3 separate regions of the Homo sapiens genome follow, and all the other regions are linked to region 1. Evidence: fine-mapped expression QTL. A gene starts in region 1. Each other region holds a variant in brackets. All regions are shown on one strand. Distances are from middle to middle. Region 1 holds the start of MPC2 (mitochondrial pyruvate carrier 2). Region 2 overlaps ADCY10 (adenylate cyclase 10). Region 3 overlaps MPZL1 (myelin protein zero like 1).

Evidence for each region. PIP is the estimated chance that this variant, and not a neighbour inherited with it, causes the effect.
Region 2: its variant is fine-mapped to the expression of MPC2 in whole blood (INTERVAL, PIP above 0.99).
Region 3: its variant is fine-mapped to the expression of MPC2 in fibroblasts (GTEx, PIP above 0.99).

What each region holds. Positions count from the first base shown.
Region 1 is chr1:167,933,903-167,942,083 of GRCh38, forward strand. It overlaps MPC2 (mitochondrial pyruvate carrier 2), which reads right to left and starts at 3,170. Exons shown (of 6, transcript NM_001143674.4): 1 at 3,037-3,170; 2 at 1,831-1,996. The coding sequence starts at 1,939. It overlaps DCAF6 (DDB1 and CUL4 associated factor 6), which reads left to right and starts at 2,781. Exons shown (of 22, transcript NM_001198956.2): 1 at 2,781-3,106. The coding sequence starts at 3,010. RefSeq lists enhancers at 1,797-1,906, 2,357-2,666 and silencers at 2,077-2,246, 2,847-2,916, 2,947-3,186.
Region 2 is chr1:167,860,155-167,868,335 of GRCh38, forward strand. ADCY10 (adenylate cyclase 10) reads right to left here. Exons shown (of 33, transcript NM_018417.6): 15 at 717-909. It also overlaps a transcript of DCAF6 not described here. Among named protein-coding and RNA genes, the nearest start is that of ADCY10, 50 kb to the right of the region's middle. RefSeq lists enhancers at 1,187-1,703, 1,704-2,221. The variant C/T (reference allele first, on the strand shown) is at 4,630.
Region 3 is chr1:167,788,701-167,796,881 of GRCh38, forward strand. MPZL1 (myelin protein zero like 1) reads left to right here. Exons shown (of 6, transcript NM_003953.6): 6 at 1-3,219. Among named protein-coding and RNA genes, the nearest start is that of MPZL1, 71 kb to the left of the region's middle. RefSeq lists a silencer at 3,883-4,031. The variant G/C (reference allele first, on the strand shown) is at 3,513.

The sequences.
Region 1 (8,181 bases):
ATGTTTTAGAGACATTAGATCATCTGATTTTCACAACAATCCTGAAATGATTACAATTACTCCCATTTTATAGATGAGATAACTAAGGCAGGAATTTAGGGTCAAGGTCACACAGCCAAGACTGAAACGTAGGTCTATTTCCCTTCAAAGCCTAGCTCCTTTTACTACACTGAAAAAGGGGGTTAAAATAACTGAACGAATCCAAGGATTTTCAGGTGAAATGCACATCCTGCAAGTGAAAGGTAATCCCTCTTCATTCTGAAAGCTGAGTAGTATTTTAAGCAGTAATTACAGGTGGCTAAAAACTAAAGGCTTGGAAAGGATCAAGGTAAGACTACCCTCCAATTTTGTATTATTTTAAGTAGTTTAAAATTACTCTTACTCTGTCATGCCCTTATCCTACAGCTAAAACACAAAGCTTATGAAGGTCAGGGTTGACTTCACATTCAGTTGACTCTGTAAAGCCCAGATTATTACAAAAAGCATAGCTCAACCCTCCTTCCCGAAAATCTTTGCCACAAAACACAGCATAATTCCAAAAAAATTGAATGTTAAAAGAACTAAAAGGCAAATAAACAAAAACTTTTTAAATCAGTAACAAACTGTCCTTAATGATCAGTTTTATAATGGGTTCAATGTTGCAGTAAATAATATTAAGGGTTAGAGTATAATCCAGATGTTCAATTCATTCCATTATCAAACTGGAAATCAGATTTAGTAACCAGTTCAGACTCCAGAGAGCTGGTTCATAATCAGATAATGGGGGAACTAGACAACTTTCCTAATGATACCAACTACAGAATACAGATTTTAACTATGTAGGAGAATAAAAGCCACTTTTCGGGTAGCACTTCAGTCTTTCAATTTACAACACATTTTCTAGTTTGCCAAGTCTTAGGCTTGAAACAGACCTCAGAATATATCTGATGTTAGCCCCTAGCAAATAAGTATTATTACAACTCACTTTATAGAAGAGGTAACAGAATTCTAGATCTTTAATAAAGGGATTGGAATCTTTCAGTTTCTTACAGTTTTTTTTTTCAACCACAAGAACACAGTTTTCCAGTAGGCAAAGAGAGATGTAACGTTTACTGAGCATTTACAAAGAGTCAAGCACATATGTTATCTGTCATTCTCATAGACCGCGTATTACACAAACAGAGATCTAGGCTTTTGCTCAAGGTCACAACTATAAGTGGTAGAAGAGAATGATATCCAGGTCTGTCCACACAAAAAGCTCTGGGTAGAGCTTGTTCAACAATTTCATAAATAAGGATAGACTTAAAAAAACACACTGGACCTATGGGATGAGAAATGACACTGACTCAAGCCTGGATGAAGTAAAGCATGCAGTTTGGGGGAGGGCTCAGTCTGCAGGCCTCTGCCAGCAGCAGCTGAAGAAAGTGACCTTTACTCCAAACCCTACAGTGCGACAAACCACCCATCCAGCTCTGCCTAGAGTGGGTTAATATGCCACAATTCGAAAAGAGAAAGAGAATGAGTGTTTCATGGTGGCCCCAGACAGTTTGGTGGCCGCAGAAGTTGAGAAGGCTCAAATCTGGAGATCAGGTTTGGGTTGGAGTCGTGCGTAAGGGAGCGGATGTCACATAGGTGGGGAAGGGAGCTGACTTGAGATACGTTGGCTTAGGAAGAGATGTTGCAGGAGAGAGGGTGAAATGCACAGGCTAGGAGAGTAGACGGCTTCACTTGAAGGGAAGGGATTGGGGCTGTGGATGCCTCTAGAGGCAGTTGTCAGAGGGCCTCTAAAAGGTCCATTTTAGAGGAAGCGAGAAGGAAGGTCTCGATAAGGAGCCATTCAGGGTCCATTACCTGCTGGATGGTTGTACAACGGCCTCAATTTCTCGGGCAGCATCAGCTCCACTTTATCGAGGAGCCGGTGGTAGGTGGCCCGCAGGCCTCGGGCACCGGCGGCCGACATCGCCGCCGAGGGATCGTTGGCAGCCGGGTGGGAGCGTGGCTGTGTTCTCGTCCCTGGCTGACAACGAAGGGGAGCTAGTCACTTTTCCTGCCACGACGACTCGCGTCCGCCTCTCGCCTGGAGTACCCTTCCCGCGGCTTTCCCTGCCCGCTGTGAACCGAAAAGCTGCGGCCCGCGCCCCGCGAAGGTTGAGGGGGCGGAGGCTGCCGACTGCCAGCCCCCGGTCCGCCTCCGGCCCCCGGCAGGAGAGAGGGAGGAGCCATGGCAACAGGTGCCAAAATAATCACCTCACCAAGTCTGCGCTGCGCCCTGCTGGCAGCGCGCTTGCGCAGGCCGAGCTGCCCGCCATGATTGGCCCGCCCCGAGGCGCGGGCGGGGTCGAGCGGAAACCTCCTCCTTCTCCCCATGCCCTCGAGGCCATGTTGGAGAAGGGAAAGTGAAGCTGCGCTGGTTCTACTGCCCTTTCACTTTGATTAAGCAGGCCCGTAGTTAAAATGGGTTTTTGGGCCTTCAGTGCCTAAAGATGATGCCGCACAATTCTCTTGCTTCTTTTCACTGGAGACTCGTGAGCGAGAGACTACAGAATTGAGTAGCTTCTCTCTCTACTCGTCTTTTATCCCTAGCGACTTAAGGATCTGGTTAGAGTGGCCCGAATGCATTCTTCCAGGGTGAGGGCAGCCGCAGCACACACCAGCCTCAGTCCCCAGGGTGGTCGTCATCTCGCGAGAAAGGGTTGGCGGGGAGGGTATCCAGGACGAGGAGAGGGAGGAGTCGCCATCGCCTCCGCCTCCGCCTCCTCCTGTTGGAGGGGGGCTGAGGGAGGAGACTGTTGCTGATCTTTGGATGTTCTGGTTAGTCTAAGAAGGAGAGTATGAGGCGAGCTCCGGCCCGGGTGCGGCCGGGCTTCAGGGGCCCAGGCGCCGCTGCTGCCACCGCCATCTAACGCTGCGCCCTGGAGGCCCGGCGCGCGGATGGTGCCGGTGCGGCTCGGGTGTTGAAACGGGTGTCCCCTCCCCCTCCTCCCCTCCCCCACGCGGTGGTCTCCCCTCCCACCCGGCTCAGGCAGAGCCATGTCTCGGGGTGGCTCCTACCCACACCTGTTGTGGGACGTGAGGAAAAGGTCCCTCGGGCTGGAGGACCCGTCCCGGCTGCGGAGTCGCTACCTGGGTGAGCGGGGGCCCCGGGGCGGAGGCGCTGAGGTCGCCGCCTAGAGTGGGGGAGGGGGCACGCTGCCGGGTCTGTTGGAGGTGGGACGGCGTCTCGGTGGGGGCGCCCGGAGACTCTGGGGTGTTGGGTGGGGCCTTGGTTGCCGAATTCCGTGCCGGTGCCTCCCCCAGTCAAGCCCCCTGTGCATGCTGCCAGCCGCCGCCCTTGCTGGGTTTTTCTCGGAGGGCCGGGCCGTGGGCAGAAGGTACTGGCTTGTAAAGGTGTTGGGGTCGCTGATGGGTTGGGACTCGGGAGACTTGCGGAACCTCCAGGAGCTGCCGCGTTTAGAGCAAAAGTTAGCTCTTTTGCTCTTTTCCAGCGCGCTTTCCCCGCTCAGCCGAAGAACCTAAGTTGTTGCCCACCCTCTCCTTCAATCTCCAGAGGGTTTAGGTGTCGGCTGCGACGCGTTGACCACCCTCAGGGACTTCACGCTCCAGACAGAATCCGTGTAAACTGTTTTTGCGGCGCTGAGCCAAAACCTAAAAGTGATAGCTGAGCTCTCCCCACCCCCGCGCGCTCTCCCAGTTCCACTCTGCTCTTCAGTTCGTTTTGACCGCTTAAAGGTGGTGTAGGGTTTCACGTTCCTCTTCCCACCCCTGGAAAACACACTTGGCATTTACAGTTTCGTAGTTAAGCTTTCTAAAAACAACCTTCAGTACTTGGGGGAACAGTATTCCACTTTTTTCGTTTTGCATAACATTTTTTTTTTGAGGATTCTAGGTCACGCCCGAGTCAACTAAAAAGTTTGGTTTCTTAAAAATGGACGTACTTAGTAAAGGTCTTTTTTGTTTCTTCCTGTATACTCTTCATTACTCTTTCTTTCTATTTGGAGATACGGCAAACAACATCATAAAATTTTTTTCTTTCCAGTTTTGCCACTTGCTAGTTAAAAAGTGTTTGTTGCTCTCATTTGTTTTTGATTTCAAGTAAAGAGAAGAAAATGAAATCTCATTACAACCAACAGTTCTGGTTTGTAAATTATTTAAGAAAAGTTAGCATGCAATTTTTTAATTCTTTTTAGTGTCTCAAGTAAAATACGAATACATTTTGTTTATAAAAACTCAATAAAAATGAAGCAAAAATCCCTTTGATCCCTCCCATTCAATTTCACTCCGCCACCCTTAGAAATAATATTTTCTGTTTTCTGAATATTCTTCCAGACCTTTTTGTTTGCATTCTTACAAGTACATATGTACATGTACAAATGCTGGGGTGTGTGTGTGTTTGTGTGTGTATGAGAGAGACACCTGAGTGCATGGTGTCATATTGTAAACATTGTTTTCACTTCTCCACATTTTGGAGATCTTTCCATGGCAGTAAAAATAGATTGATTCTGTCTTTTAAATTATTACATAGTAGGTAACATTATGAAGTACCATAGGGTACTCAACCTTTCTTCTTTAAGTAGACGTTCGCCCTTACAGCATTTTAATGAACATCATTCTACAAGCTTCTGTGCATTTGTTGTAGGATAAGTACCTAGAGTGGTGATTAATCATTTTAAAATTGAACATAGCTGGAGTCTGGTTTTTAAAACTATTTACCAAAAAAAGTGTGCAGTATTTCTTTTAGAATTTATTTGCGGAGAAAGAACTTAATTTTAGCTTAATAAAACAAACGTTAACATTGTTTTGCATGGATACATTTATAATTTGGTCCTTTATCTCAGTTGGACAGTTTAAGTACTTGTATATAGTTCTATATTTTAGTGTTTTCTTTTGGTTCAGTTACTTCAGCTATATCTACAAACGAGTTAATTAAAATATAACAAAACCATATACCTGCTTTTCCCCCTCCTACTCCAACTCCCTAATGGAAATGGAATTTGTGTATTGGGTCTAGGGGAATTGAAGGGTTCACTGACTATATTAGAAAGCCTGAATTACAGTTTTTCAAATGTGTATGTATACATACAGGGAGTTCTTTATCTTAAATAATATTTTAGATATGATAATATATACTCTTAAAATAGGACATTTTTGGAATGACTTCCTTTAAAAGTGGTTTTCTAAGTACTTGAAAATACTTTTTGAAAGTATCGAAACTTGAAAATGTTTGCAAAGAACTAATTTATTGGCCTTTACCCTTAGTAGACCTTTACACTGTTATTCAGCTCTTCTATACTACAGTGCTAATCCTGGCTTTGCATTCAGGAAGCAGCAAAATCCACATTGGTAATGTTTGAATTAGTGATGGTTTTTTTTAAAAAATGACTTTCCCTCCCAGTTTTATTGGGGTATAATTGACAATTAAAAATTGTTATATTTAAGGTGTAGGACTTGATAACTTCATATACAATCAAGTTAATTAACATATCCATCATGTCACATAATTACCATCTTTTTTTGTGTGTGGCGATAAAATGACTTTATCATTATTATTAATTTTATTTTTATTATTAGATAAAATGACTTTTTAAAGTACAGTACTCTTGGCCGGGCGCGGTGGCTTACGCCTGGAATCCCAGCACTTTGGGAGGCCAAGGTGGGTGATCACTTGAGGTCAGGAGTTTGAGACCGGCCTGGCCAACATGGTGAAACCCTGGTCTTTACTAAAAATACAAAAATTAGCCGGGAGTGGTGGCGTACGCCTGTAGTCTCAGCTCCTTGGGAGGCTGAGGCAGGAGAATAGCTTGAACTTGGGAAGTGGAGGTTGCAGTGAGCCAAGATTGTGCCACTGCACTCCAGCCTGGGCGACAGAGGGAAACTCTGCGTCATAAATAAATAAATAAATAAATAAAGTATGGTACACTTATAAAGCCTTCCTTTTAAAAGTCAAATTCCAAGTTAGGATTTTCCTAAGGAAATAGATTCCTTTTTTAAAAGACTTCAATATTTAAACATTACGATTGTCTATCTACAGGGTTGTAGATTTAAGTATTTTTCTGATACATTTTCATTATTTGTATTTCTACAGATTTTTTAGCAGTGAATTACTGCTAAATAGTAAAATTGGGATAGAACAAATAGATAAATTTTTCTTGTAGCCTTTACATTTCCAGTTATTTCACCATAGCATGTGCCCTTTCAATGTTAATATTCAAGCTTTGTAATTGATTTTACTTAAACTGATTAATTATCTCCTTTCTTCCCATCAAAGAAAATTATACTTCAGAAAACTTCCTATTATGTTGTGGGAATGAAGATGAATAATTTCCCAGATGTTATTTATGATTAAAAGATATGTTTACTTAGAGCTCCCAAATCCACAAGATTCACCTGGGCCAACAGAGTGTTGTTTTAGACTAGCATGGATTTAGAGGATAGGCCAGGGATTTTAATCTTTGTGAGCCCTATCTAAATTTCAATGTAGGATTCTTTTTTTTGGTGGGAGGCGGGGGGCAGGGTGAGGCAGGGTTTTGCTCTGTCTCCCAGGCTGGTGTGCAGTGGCACCCTCATGGCTCACTGCAGCCTCCACGTCCTGGGCTCAAGGCCATCCTCCCACCTCAGCCTCCTGGAATTTTTTTTTTTTTTAAAGAATAATTATCAAAGTCAGAGATACCTGTAGGTTTAAATGTTTAAATGTAATAGTTTCTCAAATTACTGTATACTAGGTGTAGAGTAGTGCTTTTGGAAATCAGTGATTTATTAGCCACACAGATTTTATTATCCCATATATATACGGTTTTGTAAAGATAAACATTGTTAATAAAATAAACTTATTTCAATACATTGCTTGTTTCTACTCATATTTCTTTCCTTTTGGACAGACACTCCTACAACTTTCTAACCCTTCTAAATTAAAAGATAGTAATTGATAAAAAAGTAATTTTAAGGTACTTCTCAAGGGAGTTATTTATTATAATGTATAAAATGTGTAAATTATGATTAGGCAGCCAGTGACAATTTTTTAGTGGAGATTGAATCTCATCTTTTTGTAAGGAGTTTATGAAGTCAGTGTCCTTTGAATATCATTAGAGTCAGTATGTACTGAAATGGATAATTTTGCGTGTCGATTACTCTTTAGTGCATCTTGAATACATCTGCATTCTAGATTACCAGGTTCTTCATAATATGTTGCCAAGTTACAGTGTATTTATTATATGAAGATTAGTAACTTCTGACTTTTGCCTCTTTTTTTAGCCATTGGGGAAAAGTTAGTGAAATATTTGTATTTTGTTTCTTTAGTCTTGAAATTTCAGTGAAAGCTGAAAAATGTATGATTTTAGTATTGAAAAATGACGGTCAATTGTGACAAACGTAAGATATACTGATAATTCCTTAAGGCAGGACACCAAAGGCATATAAGTAATCATAACAACCATAGACACTATGATAGCTCTACTGTGGGTTTCATTGCTTCCTAAAATAGGATGAATCAAGTTATAAGTGCTTAGAAGGTTTAGAAGCTTCTGGTAGCATGGAGCTTATGTTACAAGTATGCTTTAGGTCAGTGTTTTTAAAATGTTTTAAAAATGATCCATGATAAAAGTACATTTATGTGGCAACCTGTGATATACACAACGAAAATAAAGGATTCTCTAGGTGTATATATAAACCTTACTAGATGGGATGCATTCTGTTTTTTTTCATATTGTTACAACTGTTGGTGTTGAACTGGTAGAGTACGCACTAATGAGTCTCAGCTTGAGGTTTGGAAAATTGTTCTAGATGGTGTGTAGTTCTTGTAATTTAATGTTGCTTCAGGTTTAAGGTGGGCAGGCTTCCCCAAGTACTTGAAGGAGATTAAAAAAATTTTTTTTTAAACACTGCTGATGGCTCCACAGGGAAAATGTAAATAGTGAAACTTCATGTACATCTTGGACAAAATAACTAGGGTCGAACACTTTTAAATAGATATCTATTGTGGGATTGCTGACTTGTATGGTAAGTATGTTTAACTTTATAAAAAACTTCCAGACTGTCTTCCAAAGTAATTCTACCATACTGCATTCCCACCAGCAGTATATGAGAGTTCCAATTGCTCCACATTCTCATCAGCATTTGGTGTAGTGAGTCTTCCTAATTGTAGCCTTCATGGTAGGCGTGTAGAAATATATCATTGTTTTAATTTGCATTTCTCTTTTTTTGTTTTTG
Region 2 (8,181 bases), 74 kb before region 1:
TATAATGAAATAATTATACAACTCACCATAATGTAGATAGAATCAGTGGGAGCCCTGAGCTTGTTTCCTTGCAACTAGATGGTCCCATCTGAGGGTGATGGAAGCCAGTGACAGATCATCAGGCATTAGATTCTCATAAGGAGCATGCAACCTAGGTCCCTTGCATGCACAGTTCACAATAGGGTTCAGGCTCCTATGAGAATCTAATGCTGCTGCTGATCTGACAAGAGGAGGAGCTTAGGTGGTAATGTGAGCAATGGGGAGTGGCTATAAATAGAGATGAAGCTTCACTTGCTCACCCACTGGTTGCCTCCTGCTGTGTGGTCTGGTTTCTAACAGGCCATGAACTAGTACCAGGGGTTGAGGACCCCTGTGTTAGATAATTCAGGAAAAGACAGGGCACAGTCTGCACTGGCATCACTTGTAGGAACAGAGTGACTTTGTGTCCCAGAGTAGCTAGTATAGCTATGATAGAAAGGTAAGAAAAAAATTAGTCAGCAGATGGCCATTTGGATTTTCTTGAGTATGATATTTCAAGATACCTCTAATATGTCAAGAATGTTGATGCACATCCAGAGAGGATTGGGAGCCATTTACTCACCATCTGGATACTGCAGATATACAGACCAAAGAGATGCTAAGTCACAATGCACCAGAGAGGAGTTGCTGTGCCTGCCCATGGCTATTTGTGCAGAAGTATAATACTAGCTAGTTACCTGAACATGGAAAATGTCATTAAGAAGACAGTAGAACTTTTCATCCAACAGTGTCATGACTTTATTTCGAAGGTTGGTCTGTCGTTCTTTATAATGTTTACAAGTGTCTAGGCCTAGGACATTGGCCATGAACATCTGGATGGTATAGAAAGTTTGATGGAAGCTGATCTTATTCAATGAAATGGCAATAATCCTGTTTGTGAGAAAATCAAGAAACAGAAGAGAGTTTTTAAATATATATTTTTGAAAATAATAGAGGTTGAAGGAAAGCTCTGTCTTCTCATATTCAGCTATAATGATGGAGATTTTCCAAGCTATCTCGCAATGGTTCTTTATTGCTGCTTCTGATATACTCCCTCTTCTCCTGTTCCTAAGCCCTGATTAATTTAACCTAGCTAATTCTCTCCTTTCTAGTCCTACTGCCACCCTATACTACCACAATAGCAAGCCACTACCCCCATCCAGGTCATGACCCTCTGACTGGGAGCTCCCATTGCCTAACGGCATGAACCCAGGCCTCCTTTATGTGACACACAAGACTTTCCAAAGCCTCATTCTATCCTTTCTTGCCACTCTCTGCCTAGCAATCTACCCTTCACCAACAGCAAGCAGGTGAGAGTTCCCTGCACACCCAGAGCTATTTCTCCTCTCCATGCCTTTGCTTATGCTGTCTCCTCAGCCCAGAGTGCTATGGCTTCTCATTGCCCCTCATTTGAGGTTCATCTCAAGTCTCAGCTCAGGTGTAGCCTCCTGGAAACTGTCATCAATGTCCTAAGGTTGACTACATACCCTTTCTTCTCTGAACTTCCACAATTCTCTATTGCATGACTCTATCGTTGCCCTCACTATATTCAACTTTTAATGCTATCTGATATGGTTTGGCTCTGTGTCCTCACCCAAATCTCATCCCGTATTGCAACCCCCGAGTGTCAGGGGAGAGACCTGTTGGGAAGTGATTGGATCATGAGGGCGGTTCCCCCCATGCTGTTCTCATGATAGTGAGGGAGTTCTCATGAGATTTGATGGTTTAAAAGTTTGGCACTTCCTCCCTTGCTCGCTCTCTCCTGCCACCATGTAAGACATGCCTTGCTTCCCCTTTGCCTTCTGTCATGATTATAATTTTCCTGAGGCCTCCCTAGCCATGTGGAACTGTGAGTCAATGAAACCTCTTTTCTTTATAAATTACCCAGTCTCAGGTAGTTCTTTATAGCAGCGTGAAAACGACTAACACATTATCTCTCTCCTCCTCTTCTGTGAGAGCTCCTTGAGGGCAGAGAGCAGACTTTATTGATATTCAGGGCTTTGGCACTTGTTGACACATGTCCCCACAATTCATATGTTAAATTCTTAGCCTCTAGGGCCTCAAAGTGTGACCTTATTTGAAAAGAGAGTCGTTGCAGATACAATTAGTTAAGATGAGATCATGCTAGAGTAGGGTAGGCCTCTAATCCAATAAAACTGATGCCCTTATAAAAAGGAGAAATTTGGACACAAACAACACACAGGGAGAATGCCATGTGACATGAAGGCAGAGATTAGGGTGACGCTTCTACAAGCCATCTTTGGAACACCAAAGATGGCCAGCAACCACCAGAAGCTAGCAGGTGGGCATGAAACAGATTCTTCCTCATGGTCCAGAGAAGAAAAGATGCCTTGATCTCAGACTCCTACCCCTGAGAACTATGAGACAAATTTCTGTTGTAAGCCATCCATTTGTAGTACTTTTTTACAGAGGCCCCGGCTAGTGAATACAGCACTTAGTAGTTCCTGAACATAGTAGGAATTCAATTAATGATTGAATACATGAATAAACAAATGTCTTCTGACTGTTGTGAATTATCCCTTCAGCAATGATAAAGATATTTTAAAACTGGCCTTTCTCAGGCCTAACTTTAATGTGGGATAGAGATACAGCTAAGAATATTATAAGATTAACAAGCATTTTCCCCTCACACTGTTTAGGTTAGGTGGGGAAGGGATATGAGTCACCATCATTATTGTCCTGGTCATCACCACTGTTATTGAATACCATACTATCTACTTCCATGAGGAAGTAGAATGGATTGTCCCAAAGATAGCCCTCATAATATTCCTTATATGAAAATAAATAAACAACATGAGACAAGTATATTAGATCTGTCTTCCAGGGAAAAATCCAAAGACCTCTTATTCTCTATCTCCAGTCTTAGGACTAAATGGTTTGAACTAGTGATTCCCTGTTGAGGGAAGAGACAGACCCTCTCATATTGTTTTATACTCAGAAAAGGAAAGAAAAGTGAAATTAAAGGCAGATAGCCCGGCGCCTAGGAACCAGACCCGAAACCAGGCCTGGGCCTGCCTGACCTAAGCTCGGTAGTTAAAATTCGACCCCTGACCTAGCAACTGTTGTTATCTATAGATTCCAGACATTGTATGGAAGGGCATTGTATGGAAGGACATTGTGAAATCTCTCGTTCTGTTCTGTTTCACTGTGACCACCGGTGCTCACAGCCCCTGTCACGTACCCCCTGGCTTACTCAATCGATCACGACCCTCTCATGCGGACCCCCTTAGAGTTGTGAGCCCTTAAAAGGGACAGAAGTTGAGCATCAGACGAGCTCGGATTTTGAGACGCTAGCCTGCCGATTCTCCCAGCTGATTAAAGCCACTCCCTTCACTATCTCGGTGTCTGAGGGGTTTTGTCTGCGGCTCATCCTGCTACATTTCTTGGTTCCCTGACCGGGAAGCAAGGTGATTAACAGATGGTCGAGGCAGCTCCTTAGGCGGCTTTAGCCTGCCCTGTGGAACATCCCTGCTGGGGACTCCAACCAGCCAGAGTGACGCGGATCCTGAGAGCTCTCCTGGGTAGGCATTTGCCCCGGTGGGACACCTCGCCAGAGCAGTGTGTGGCAGGCCCCCGTGGAGGATCAACAGAGTGGCTGAACACCGGGAAGGAATTGGCACTTGGAGTCCGGACAACTAAAACTTGGTAAGACTAGTCTTTGGAACTTGCCCACTCCATTTGAGTGGAAGCATGGCCTGATCACCCACGGCGTGCCTTTATCAGCACTTGGTTTTGGTTTTGACTTGGTTTGAATTACTTGACAGGACTGGTCTTGGGAACTTGCCCACTCCATTCCCACTCCATTTGAGTGGAAGCATGGCCTGATCTGATCACCCACGGTGTGCCTGTTCCGGCACTTTGGTTTTTGTTTTTGACTTGACTTAGATTGCTTGATACTTTGGTTTTGGTTTTGACCTGGCTTGGATTTCTGAATACTCTGATTTTGGTTTTGATTTTGGTTTAGTGTAAACTGCAAAAGTGTGTGCGTGCCCTTTTTACCCGTTCTTTGTTTTGTGGTGTGCATGTGGTGTGAGAGTGGTGTTTTGTCTCGAAGAAACATGGGTCAGGCACAAATAAGCCCACCCTACTAGAAACTATGTTGAAAAATTTCAAGAAAGGATTTAAGGGAGATTACGGTGTTACTATGACACTAGAAAAACTTAGAACTTTGTGTAAAATAGACTGGCCAACATTAGAGGTGGGTTGGCCATCAGAAGGAAGCCTAGACAGGTCCCTTGTTTCAAATGTATGGCACAAGGTAACCTGTAAGCCAAGGCACACAGACCAGTTTCTGTACGTAGACAATTACAGCTGGTTTTAGACCCCCTTCGCCCCCACAGTAGTTAAGAGAGGCAGAAAGAGAGGAAGAAACAGAGGCAAAAGGAAAGTCAAAGAGAGAGAGAGGGAGAGAGAGAGACAGAAAGTCAAAGAGAGAAAGAAAAATAGAGAGAAATATCCAAGTAGTTAAGAAAAAAATAGTGTACCCTATTCCCTTTAAAAGCCAAGGTAAATTTAAAACCTAAAATTGATAATTAAAGGTATTCTCCGTAACCCTGTAACACTCTAATACCACTTTGTTGTTAGTGTAAA[C/T]AAGGGCGTATCCCGAAAGCACTGAGGCCTTCCTATCAAAAATCCTTAACCCAGTAACCCACGGATGGCCCAGATGCATTCAATCTGTAGCAGCAGCTGCTTTGCTAACAGGAAAAAAAAAAAAAAAGAGCTGTGGGAAGGCAAAATTTATGTAAAAAGAGTGTTATATGGTAAATTCTTGTCTTGAAATAAATTAACTGTTGTTTAAAGAAAGAAATATTTGTAATAAGTCAGAAAGTTGAGACATGTCAAAGAATTATCTGCGAAAGTCATAGAAAACGATGTTATAAAAAATTTATGCAAAAAATATTGTATAATTTGAAAGTAATAAGGCCTCCTGAGTACTATTGAAGAAACAGTTTATGTGCAAGGTGCATAAGAAAAGTAAAATATACTTTTGGTAAAAAGATTAGAAGGAGGCATAAGAATGTGGATTTTTACCTACATTAAAAGGTTAAAAAAATTATTGTTTTGAAAGTTTAAGCAAGTTTTAAAATGTTAATTGTAAAAAAAAATTCTGTGTGTAAACTAATTAGCTAAAGATAAAAAGGTATCATCCAGTTTTTCTGTGAACTGGACATTAAAGTAAAAATGCAACAGGTTTTTCTTGAAGCACCAACCTGCTCTTTAACAAAAATTATAAAAGGTTAAAAAGAGTCTGTAAAAACTTACCTTATGGTCAAACATGAAAAATTGGATAAATATGTCTATGAGGTTTTATTAAAATTAAGTTTAACATTAATAACACACTAATATAAAGGTAAAATTTAGCTTATCTGGTATAAAAATCATACAAGAAGTATTATTAAATATAAAATGGTGTTTAGCTTTCTTTGGTCTAAAAACTAATAAAAATAGGTCCTAAAGGAAACATTCATTTTACTAGAGGATCATAGAAGTTAAAGACTTAAAACAAACTTTGGCAATTAAGACAGCATACCAAGATGCAAATGCCTGGTTGAAATGGATCAAATATTCCATCTGCACATTAAACAAAAGCAGTTGTTATGCTTGTGCACATGGCAGGCCAGAGGCCCTCATTGTCCCCCTTCCACTAAAGTGGTCCTCCAGTCCACCAGGCGTGGGCTGCATGGTAGCTCTTTTCCAGGATTCTACAGCCTGGAGTAATAAGTCATGCCAAACTCTCTCTGCTATCCCTGTGGGTCAGCCCCCGAGGGCCATCCAGCCTCCGTCTCCCAACACTAAGTTCACTTCATGTCTCTCACCACAGAGAGGAAACTTAGGATTCCTTGGAGACCTGAAGTGATGCAATGAGCTTAAGAATTTTCAAGAGCTTATCAATCAGTCAGCCCTTGTTCATCCCCAAGCGGATGTGTGGTGGTATTGTGGTGGACCTTTACTGGGCACTCTGCCGAATAACTGGAGTGGCACTTATACTTTAGTCCAGTTGGCTATCCCTTTCACCCTGGCATTTCATCAACAAGAGGGAGGAAAAATAAGACATCGTAAAGCGAGAGAAGCCCCCTTATAGGTCTTTCGACTCTCACGTCCATTTAGACGCAATTGGAGTCCCACGAGGAATACCAGATCAATTTAAAGCTTGAAATCAAATAGCTACAAAATTTAAGTCAATATTTTAGTGAGTGATGTTAATAAAAATGTAAATTAGATAAATTATATCTATTACAAACAACAGCAACAAGCTTTTCATGAGTTGAAAGAAAAACTCAGGTCGGCCCCAGCCCTGGGGCTACCTGACCTGACGAAAGTGCACACTCTATGTGCCAAAAAAAAAAAAAAAAAAAAAGGGCCATCTATACCAATTCTAAGTTAATTTAGACTAAACAAGGTCTTACTCATAGCAAAGGATAATTGAAATCCCAAACTTACAAGGTTTTCAACAAAAGTAAAGTTTGCTAAAAGTTAACAGTGTAACATGTATTATAGTAACTTCTAATCTTGTGGCCTTAGACAGTCTAGTCCACAGATATAAAGAAAGTTCACTTAAAAAAAAAAAAAAAAGAATGGTTATCTTCAAAAAAAAAAAATGGCAGTTGGAGTTTTAACCCAGACTGTAGGGCTCTGGCCAAGGCCAGTGGCCTATCTCTCAAAACAACTAGATGGGGTTTCCAAAGGCTGGCCCCCATATCTAAGGGCCCTGGCAGCAACGGCCCTGTTAGCACAAGAAGCAGATAAGCTAACTCTTAGGCAAAACCTAAACATAAAGTCCCCCCCATGCTGTGGTGACTTTAATCAGTACCAAAGGACATCATTAGCTAATGAATGCTAGACTAACTAGATACCAAAGCTTGCTCTGTGAAAATCCCCACATAACCATTGAAGTTTGCAACACCCTAAACCCCGCCACCTTGCTCCTGGTATCAGAGAGCCCAGTTAAACATAACTGTGTAGAAGTGTTGGACTCAGTTTATTCTAGTGGGCCCAACCTCCAAAACCATCCTTAAACATCAGTAAACTGGGAGCTGTACGTGGATGGGAGCAGCTTCACCAACCTCTGCAAAGTGACTCAGAAAAAGCCCTGCTCCAGTCACACCCGGAAGCTGACTGGTCCACGCACGGCCGAAGCATGAGAAAACTCATCACGGGACTCATTTTCCTTAAAATTTGGACTTGTACAGTAAGGACTTCAACTGACCTTCCTCAGACTGAGAACTGTTCCCAGTATATACATCAAGTCACTGAGGTAGGACAAAAGATTGCTACAGTCCTATTATTTCATGGTTATTATAAGTGTACGAGGACTCTAAAAGAAACTTGTTTGTATAATGCTATTCTATCCAAGGTATGTAGCCTAGGAAATAACCAACCTGATGTGTGTTATGACCCATTTTAAGCCTCCAATGATCACAGTTTTTTAAAATAAATTAAGGACTGGTCCTTTTCTAGGTGACACAAGTAAAGTAATAGCTAAGACAGAAGAAAGAGGGATCCCCAAGCATGTAACACTAAAATTTAATGCTTGTGCCACTATCAATAGCAATCGGCATAGAATAAGATGCGGTTCTTTAAACTGAAAAAAAAAAAAGTTACACAGCAGGAAATAAGTATATCTGCCACGAATTAAGCTCATGTGCAAATGTGTGTAATTACTGGTCTTGTGTCATCTAGGCTACTTAGAAAAAGGATGAAAAAGACCCTGTTTAGCTCCAAAAAGGAGAAGGCAGCCCCTCCTGTACGAGTGGAAGCTGCAACCCCTTGAAATTAGTAATTACAAATCCCTTAAACCCAAGGTAGAAAAAAAGAAGTACACGTATCTCTGGGCGTCGATAAAAAAGGACTAGATCCTAGAGTAAATACCTTAGTAAAAGAGGAGGTTCGTAAACTCTCTCCGGAACCAGTATTTCAGACTTTCTATGATTAACTAAATGTGCCAGTACCAGAGACTCCAGGAAAAACCAGAAATTTGTTTTTGCAATTAGCCGAGCATGTAGCCCAGTCTCTAAATGTCACCTCATGTTACGTTTGTGGAGAAACTGTAATAAGAGATCAATGGCATAAGAAGCCCGAGAATTAGTGCCTACAGACCCAGTTCCTGATGAATTCCCGGCCCAAAAGAATCACCCTGATCAT
Region 3 (8,181 bases), 150 kb before region 1:
GTGGAGAGTAAAAAGTATCGGTTTTATTCTTTGCTGATGTCCTTTCTGCTTGAAATAACAGTCACCATACAGCTAAAGGAGAGGAGTTTCTTTCCTTCTAAGTAGGCAGAAATGGTATCATTATGTTGCCGCTCTCCAATCTCCCAGAGCTCGCTCTCTAGAGAATCACCTTCTTTCGCTTTTTTTTTTTTTTTTGAGGTAGAGTCTCACTATGTTGCCCAGACTAGCCTTGAACTCTTGGGCTCAAGTGATTCTCCCTCCTCAGCCTCCCGAGTAGCTGGAACGAACTATAGTTGCACCACTGCAGCTGGCAAGAATCACCTTCTTTATAAAGCGTCAGTCATGCTTCCAGCAAGAGGCAGCATCAGTCATGGCTTTATAACAGCTTCATGGTGCCTCAAAGACTGTTGAGGTTAATGAGAGCCTAGATTAGACAGTTTGGCTGTCCTTCCCTAAAACTTGTTTTCTCCTATTCACTACTCCCCACCGCACTTAAAATCTATGAGTTTTTACTTTTTACTGGGAATGGAAAGTGTGGTGAAGATCATTCAACACTTATGTTGTCATTTCTCCCATTTTCTGAATTTTTTTTTAAATTTCCCCCCTTTTAAAATTGTTCGAAAGCCCACAGTTATGGAAAGAATTACTGTCTAGATGGTCTGCAGAACGTGTTTGGGGTGAGTGGGAGTGAGGGGCAATGTTACTTTTTCTCCCTGTAGTTTGGAGTCCATTATGAGCTGCTGCTTTTTCTTCTCATCTTGTCATCTTCTGGGGATGTTTGAAGGCTGAGTTCCAACAGAATTCACAAAGGGAATAAAACAGGATTGAGATTTTGAGGTGTGCACAAGGTGGTAAGATAAAGGGCATATGAGCTTCAAAACTAATGCTGTTGCATACATGAAGCCTTTTGTTTTTTGAGGAGCTATTTTTGTTATTCTTGTAACGCTCCACCTTACATGCCACATCTGTGTGAGTCAACAGGGATCAGGTTTGGTCACCACACATGTCTGAAGCTGGGCAGCGTCTGCTCTGTGTTCTGTGTGGAATGGAGAAAAAAACGCCTGCCCTGCTGCCTTCCATGTTCATAGGCCCAGCCCAAGAGAGTGACACACAGTGCTGGCCCTGAGACATTTCCACAAAGTGGTCAACTCTGCCTTGCATCCTAAAACTTTTTGGGCATCTATTTTGAAAACTATAGGAGCCTTTGGAAGGCCTCTTATGTTTGGAGGGGAAGGGTGTTGAGATTGTCACCATCCTTCAAGCTGAGACTCCTGGTGAGCCTTTGCCACCATGAAAACCACATAGCTGACCAGGGCTGTGCTTGAGGTACAGAGGACACACATTGTAGACAGGCCTGTGTCATGTTTCCTTACAGTCGTTTTTTACAGAGAAAAGGGGCATTGTTTTTTCACTGCTTTCTCAACAGTTCCTGTGAATAAATGAAACATTTCGGAGCTCCCTGAGAGCAAGAGCCTTCACTTCTTCTTGCGGTGCCGGGACCATGTGTTGGTGAAGCTGGTGCTGTGGGGGCCACTCACTCGAATGACACCTGGAGGCCTGTTCCTCCCTTACCACTCCCTTCCCCAGCCCGACTTCTTGGCCTCCTGCCCAACCAGACACCTCAAACTCTGTCAGTGCCCTGGCATTCTGGCAGAGAATCCTCACCAGTTCTCACCAACCTTCCCCCCAGGCAAGGGCAGCTGCCAGCATGGTGCTCTGCCAGGACAGGTTTCCCTGAAGGAAGCTGCTCACACTGAGATGAGCCTCTCAGGGCAGGACCTCTTCCCAAGCCCTGCACACCCACCCCTGCAGCCCTTTTGGCTCCCCTTTTCCCTGTGCCTCAGCACTCCTTTCCTGGTTGCAGATAACGAACTAAGGTTGCCTAAAGGGCAGATCTGCCCTCTCCATGTCTTCGTCCTGGCAAACAGGGTCGTCTTAAAATTATGCGCTAATTCTGTATGGGAGCACTCAAAAGGCATTACTTAGAGATTGAAATTTCAAACTATCTCTAGTTTTTCAATGGAAATATATCAGCTAGGGAAAAACCATCAAGCTCATTATTATTTTTTGATCTTCAGTTGTATTTTTGTGAATATTTTAATACATCTTTTTCAATTTCTGAATTGTGTTGTGTGCTCATTTTGACCAGAATAGAAAAAGAGATATGCCTTTCACTCATATCATTCCAGCTACACCTGCCTTCTTTTCTTCAAAAATGCCGTCCGTGTGCCTGCTTCTGGGCCTTTGCACATGCTGTTCCCTGGGCCTGAAGCATGCCTTCTGCCAATATTCCTGTGGTTTGCTCTCTGACTTCCTTTAAGCCTCTGCTCAAATGTTACCTCCTCAGGGAGACCTTCTGTGATATATAAAAGAGCAAGCCCCCCACCCCACCGCCTCAGCCTTCCTGGCCCCCTCAGTTCTGCTCTAGTTACTCTATTTCTCTCCCTCTTTCCCAGTACACACTTGTCTGTTCTCCCGCATTAGAACATAGTTAACAAGAGACCAGAACCTTGCTGTTTTGTTCACTGCTCCGTCTGCAGTAAAGGGAACAGCACCTGGCACTTAGCTGCTCAATACATGTTACGTGGATGGATGAGTAGGTGGAAGCATTCATCCATTCAGCAACCTACACTGAGAACAATCCTGTGCCAAGCACTGTGCTAAGCATAAGGAAACAAAACAAGACAAAGCTCCTCAAGGAGCTTGCCACAGGGTGGAGGTGACAGGTGACATGAATGGAAGTAACTAGTAGTTACCAAATACTTGGTGTGAGCCAGGCACTTTGCATTTCTTTCTCTATTATTTCTGTGAGTTAACAGTAATTGTACTAATCTTAATCCCATTGTTTGAAAGATTATATGGCTTACCCAGGGCCACTTAGCTAATAAAGGAACAGAGAAGAGGGGCTGGGCCTGGGGCCGCTGTTTGATCCACAGCCTTGTTCCTAACCACTATGCCCTGTGGCCTCTCACACCAAAAGGAAGTACCAAACTGCTTCCTTACTCAAATAAATGTGCTGAAATGCAGTTGCAGTTTTCTCCCAGTCCCTTAGGAGCTGGTTAGAGAGTCCCTTAGGAACTTGAGAGGGTAGTGTAGTCTAGGTGGTAGGCACAGATGTCTGAGAGCTTTAACCTCAGTCTGGAAGACAATGTGGTGACTTAATTTGTTGAGAACTATGTTACAAATAATGTGTTACTAATAAAACATTGAGGCTTCGCAGTGACTTAGTAATTTTATAAATTACCATGGATTCACAATGAGCCCCTGCCTTGCATAACTTTGGGCTTGCAAAACCTAATGCGTTCTTGAGTGGGAGAAGATGAGTTACAGCTGGCAGGAACTCCCCTGGGAGTAATTCTCACATGTGAACAGCATCCATCTTGCGTGATGTGACAAAAAGAAAAGGGATGCTTCCTTCACCACACAAGGGCAGCAGTGAGTGATGGAATCACATTTTTGTCATCTCTGCAATTCCTTCCAAGTCAGCACTAAGTGTCGGAGGGCATCCACCT[G/C]CTGGGGCTCTGGTTTCCAAGCTACATAGGGGCCTTGCCAACCAAAGATGGACTTTTTATTTATGAGAGCAGCTTCCACCCCTGAGGGAGCTGAGTTGAGCAGTGTTTAGAGGAAACTCAGATACTCTCTCACCCCAGTTGGCTCCCTTCTGACCCCTCTGGGTAGTTCCTGTGCTAACTGGACTGGGGAACCACTGACTTCATCCTCCCACTGTGCAGGAAAGGCGAGGGAGCAGCCACGGGGAGGAAAGTGGCATCTGTGGTATTGGTAGAGCTGGTGGTAGGAGCCAACCATCTGCTTTTATGGCGGGTTCTCCCCTGCACTTTCCTCTTGCATAGTCAAGATATTGTATGAACAATTTCAATATATTTTGTTTTTTTGTAGAATTACTTTAATGAAATTACCCTTTGATATAATTTGAAAAAAATTTTTTTTTGAGACAGTCTTGCTCTGTCATCCAGGCTGGAGTGCAGTGGCATGATCTTGCCTCACTGCAACCTCCACCTCCTAGGTTCCAGCGATTCTCCCACCTCAGCCTCCCCAGTAGCTGGCATTACAGGCACGCGCCACCACACCCGGCTAATTTTTTGTATTTTTAGTAGAGATGCCCGCCTCAGTCTCCCAAAATGCTGGGATTACCGGTGTGAGCCACTAGGCCCAGCCCCTTTGACATAATTCTATCAGCCTACATTGAAGTATGTCATAAAAAAGAGTCCTAGGAAACTAGCTACTTATTGTACTTTACTGCCAGCATGGCTTTGAGAACGTTATTCCCTGTCATACATTTTTCAATGTTATAAAGACCCACAGCACAAATATCTCTCTGGATTTAATACCAGATGATATGGTTGAGATCTGTGTCGCAGCCTAAATCTGTCGAATTGTGATACCCAGCATTGGAGGTGAGGCCTGGTGGGAGGTGATTGGATCACAGTGGGTAGATTTCTAATGAATGGTTTAGCACCGTCCTCCTTGGTACTGTTCTCGTGATTGTGAGTTCTCATGGGACCTGTTTGTTTAAAAGTATGCAGCACCCTCCCACTCTGCTCTCTCGCTCCTCCTCCCGCCACGTGAGACGCCTCATGAGAAGCCTCACTACCCCTTTGCCTTCCGCCATATTTGGAAGCTTTCTGGGGCCTCACCAGAAGCCAAAGACGCTATGCTTCCTGTGTAACCTGCAGAACGGTGAGCCAATTAAACCTCTTTTCTTCATAAATTACCCAGTCTTGGGGTTTTGTTTTTGTTTGTTTTTTGTTTGTTTGTTTGTTTTTTGAGATGGAGTCTCACTCTGTCGCCCAGGCTGGAGTGTAGTAGCACGATCTCGGCTCACTGCAACCTCCACCTCCTGGGTTCAAGCGATTCCCCTGCCTCAGCCTCCTGGGTAGCTGGGATTACAGGCATGCGCCACCATTCCCGGCTAATTTTTTTTTGTATTGTAGCGGAGATAGGGTTTCACCATGTTGGCCAGGCTGGTCTCGAACTCCTGACCTCAGGTGATCTGCCCGCCTTGGCCTCCCAAAGTGCTGGGATTACAGGCGTGAGCCACCACACCTGGCCTTCAGTCCCAGGTATCTTTTATAGCAGCGTGAAAACAAGTAATACACCAGGAAAACTGTTTCTTATGAATATTTTGTTTCAAACTAGTCATGTGCACTGACTTGTCACTGATTGTATTTGTCTCTTTGCTTTTGCTATTCTCTAGGTCCTAGCCAAATTTGTGGGTCACTTTCTACCACTGTACACAGATTGTACACTCCATATACACTTTGTACATTAACTTTACTCATAGCTTTATGTGTATCTTGGATTATGTTCAGCTCTATGATCTGTCTCAGTTTTTTCCAGTGATACAATAATAGATGTGTCCTGATTTAGATAGAGAAAGTAGGTAGGCAGAGATTCTGGCCATGGCATCAGAGATTCATAATGCCAACCACAGACTTACTCTTGACTCCACAAAAACCATTTCACAAATTCCTATTGTTGCCCAAAAGAGGTGAAAATAAAAGTATATGACTGGCTGAGTGTAACAAAACTACATGACAGGAATTACGACTCACATACAGCCTGGAGTCACCTTTCTGTTACACCCTGTTCATCAGTGATGGAAAGGCAGCTTCCTATGTGCTGAAAGTTCATCTCTCTTATTGCAGGTATGATTTCCACTGGTATTAATGAGCTTGAAATATGAAGGCCACTTAAATTTCCCAGAGGTGTCAAGTGATGTGGGGATTTCAGAGCATGTATCAACTCACTTCAGCAATATTAGCATTTTTGTTTGAAATACCCAGTTAGACAGGAAACTTGAAAGATAATTGTTTCAATTATTTGTATCATCATACTGAAAATTGCTTAAAACGTTCTGGTTGTTCCTTGAAGACATTAAAAGAATAGATCCTATTAATGCCCCATAGGTTATTTGATCCTTTTGGAAATGAAAAGATTGACTGATGATTGATTGAATTTTCTGCTTTTTATTAAATTGGTGAGATGGCAAAAAAAGAAAAATGTAAACATATACAAAAGAAGAGAGAATAGTAAAATCAACCTGCATACACTTATTATCTTCAATACTTATTTTATCCAGCCCCTTTTTTCTTTTTTCCTCTTTTCTGAATTATTTTAAAACAAATCCCAAAATCATGTAAGTGCACCCCTACATTCTTCACTGTGCATCTTTTAAAAATGTGGACATTTTCTTACATAATCACAATATCTTGTCACATTTAACAAAAACCTGTCCTAAAACACATTTTTTACAAACAAAATCCTTGGTTTTATATATTATTACCCAGTTAATATTCAAGTTTCCCTTGTCTTAAAAAATGGCATTTTACAAGTGGTTTCTTCCAGTCAGGATCCAAACATAGTTCTGGTAAAGTTTTTTTTTTTTTTTTTTTTTTGCCTATTTTTAAACCCAAAATGGGATCATGGTGCTCTGCAGTTTGCTTTCTTCCCTTAGCATTATGGCAGAGAAGTTTCAGCATGAAGAACTAGGTCATTAGATAATAGCACCTGCAGGACTTTGTCTTTTGTAGATGCGCCGGAATATTTTAAACCATTTCTTTTTTTCTTTCTATTTTAAACAGAGTTTCACTCTTGTTGCCCAGGCTGGAGTGCAATGGCGTGATCTCAGCTCACCACAACCTCCACCTCCCAAGTTCAAGCGATTCTCCTGCCTCAGCCTCCCAAGCTGGGATTACAGGCATGCGTCACCATGCCCTGCTAATTTGGTATTTTTAGTAGAGACAGGGTTTCTCCATGTTGGTCAGGCTGGTCTCAAACTCCCAACTTAAGGTGATCCGCCCACCTCGGTCTCCCAAAGTGCTGGGATTACAGGCATAAGCCACCGCAGCCAGCCTTTGCATTTTAAACCATTTCTGATCTTCTGGATAGGTTGTTTCCAGTTGTTTTGTTATTGGCTATTACAAGTAGTGCTGTAATTGTCATTTGCCTTCATGAGCTATTAAGGAAGAAAAGCCAAATAATTTGCAGGCTCAGAGAAGCAACACAGAATCAGTCACGTCCTTGGCCTTGGAAATGGGATCTAATATCTGAGAGCGATGAAAGTGGCTCACAAGCTCCCCTGCCCTCCTCACATCCTTCCTAAAGCCATCAGGAGCTGGCCACAGAGCACACTGGCTGCTCTCAAGTTTGACTGAGTCTTGGGTTGTTAGAAAAACAACTGGGAGTGGAAGGCAGGAGGGAGCTCTAGAATCCACGGGAGACCTGGCTGTGTTTGCAAAGAAGAAAACATAGACGTAAAGCCCAAAGGGGTCCGTAGGGAACTGCTGCTTCCAGCTTCCATTTCCTCCTGCAAACAGGATGTGAAGCTATTGTCCCTTCTTGGCTCAGGCTTTTGGATTTGTTTGTCCATCCATTTCTTCACTGTGGCCTTTGTGGAGCTGGCCTTTAGTGTTGCAGAATATAAGGAAGGGCTGGGTTTGTTTGTTTGTTTGTCTTTTAAAATCTCCCTACCTCTGTGAAGAGGATGTGGTGCAGATTTGCTTTCAAGCCTTGCCCTCCGTGCTGTGGGGCTGACAAAATTCTGGTTACTTTGCCCTTCAGGGCATTAAATGATTTCAGGTATTTATACCTGAGTCACTGCTCTGCTATGGGAGCGGGGGATAGAACAGCTAAAAACCATCTTAAGGCCTGAGGTTTCTCATTCTGTGATAAGGACTCCAAGGAAACTGAATTTCAATACTAGAGTACATTGTTGGTTCTTTCTCTGCCTTTGAATAGAATTATTTTTTAAATTACAAAGTTTCTTTTAAAAGAAAGAACTTTTAAATATATTTTGTAGGGAATCTCTTAGAAGGTACAATAGATTCATAGGAATGTGGAACATTTGGCCGGGTGCAGTGGCTCATGCCTGTAATCCCAACAATTTGGGAGGCCGAGGCAGGCGGATCACTTGAGGTCAGGAGTTAAAGACCAGCCTGGTCAACATGGTGAAACCCCATCTCTACTAAAAATACAAAAAATTAGCCGGGGGCGGTGGCATGCTCCTGTAGTCCCAGCTACTCGGGAGGCTGAGCGGGGAGAAGGGGAGAATCACTTGAACCCAGGAGGTGGAGGTTGCAGTGAGCTGAGATCGTGCCATTGTACTCCAGCCTGGGCAACAAGCGAGACTCCGTCTCAAAAAAAAAAAAAAAAAAAAAAAAA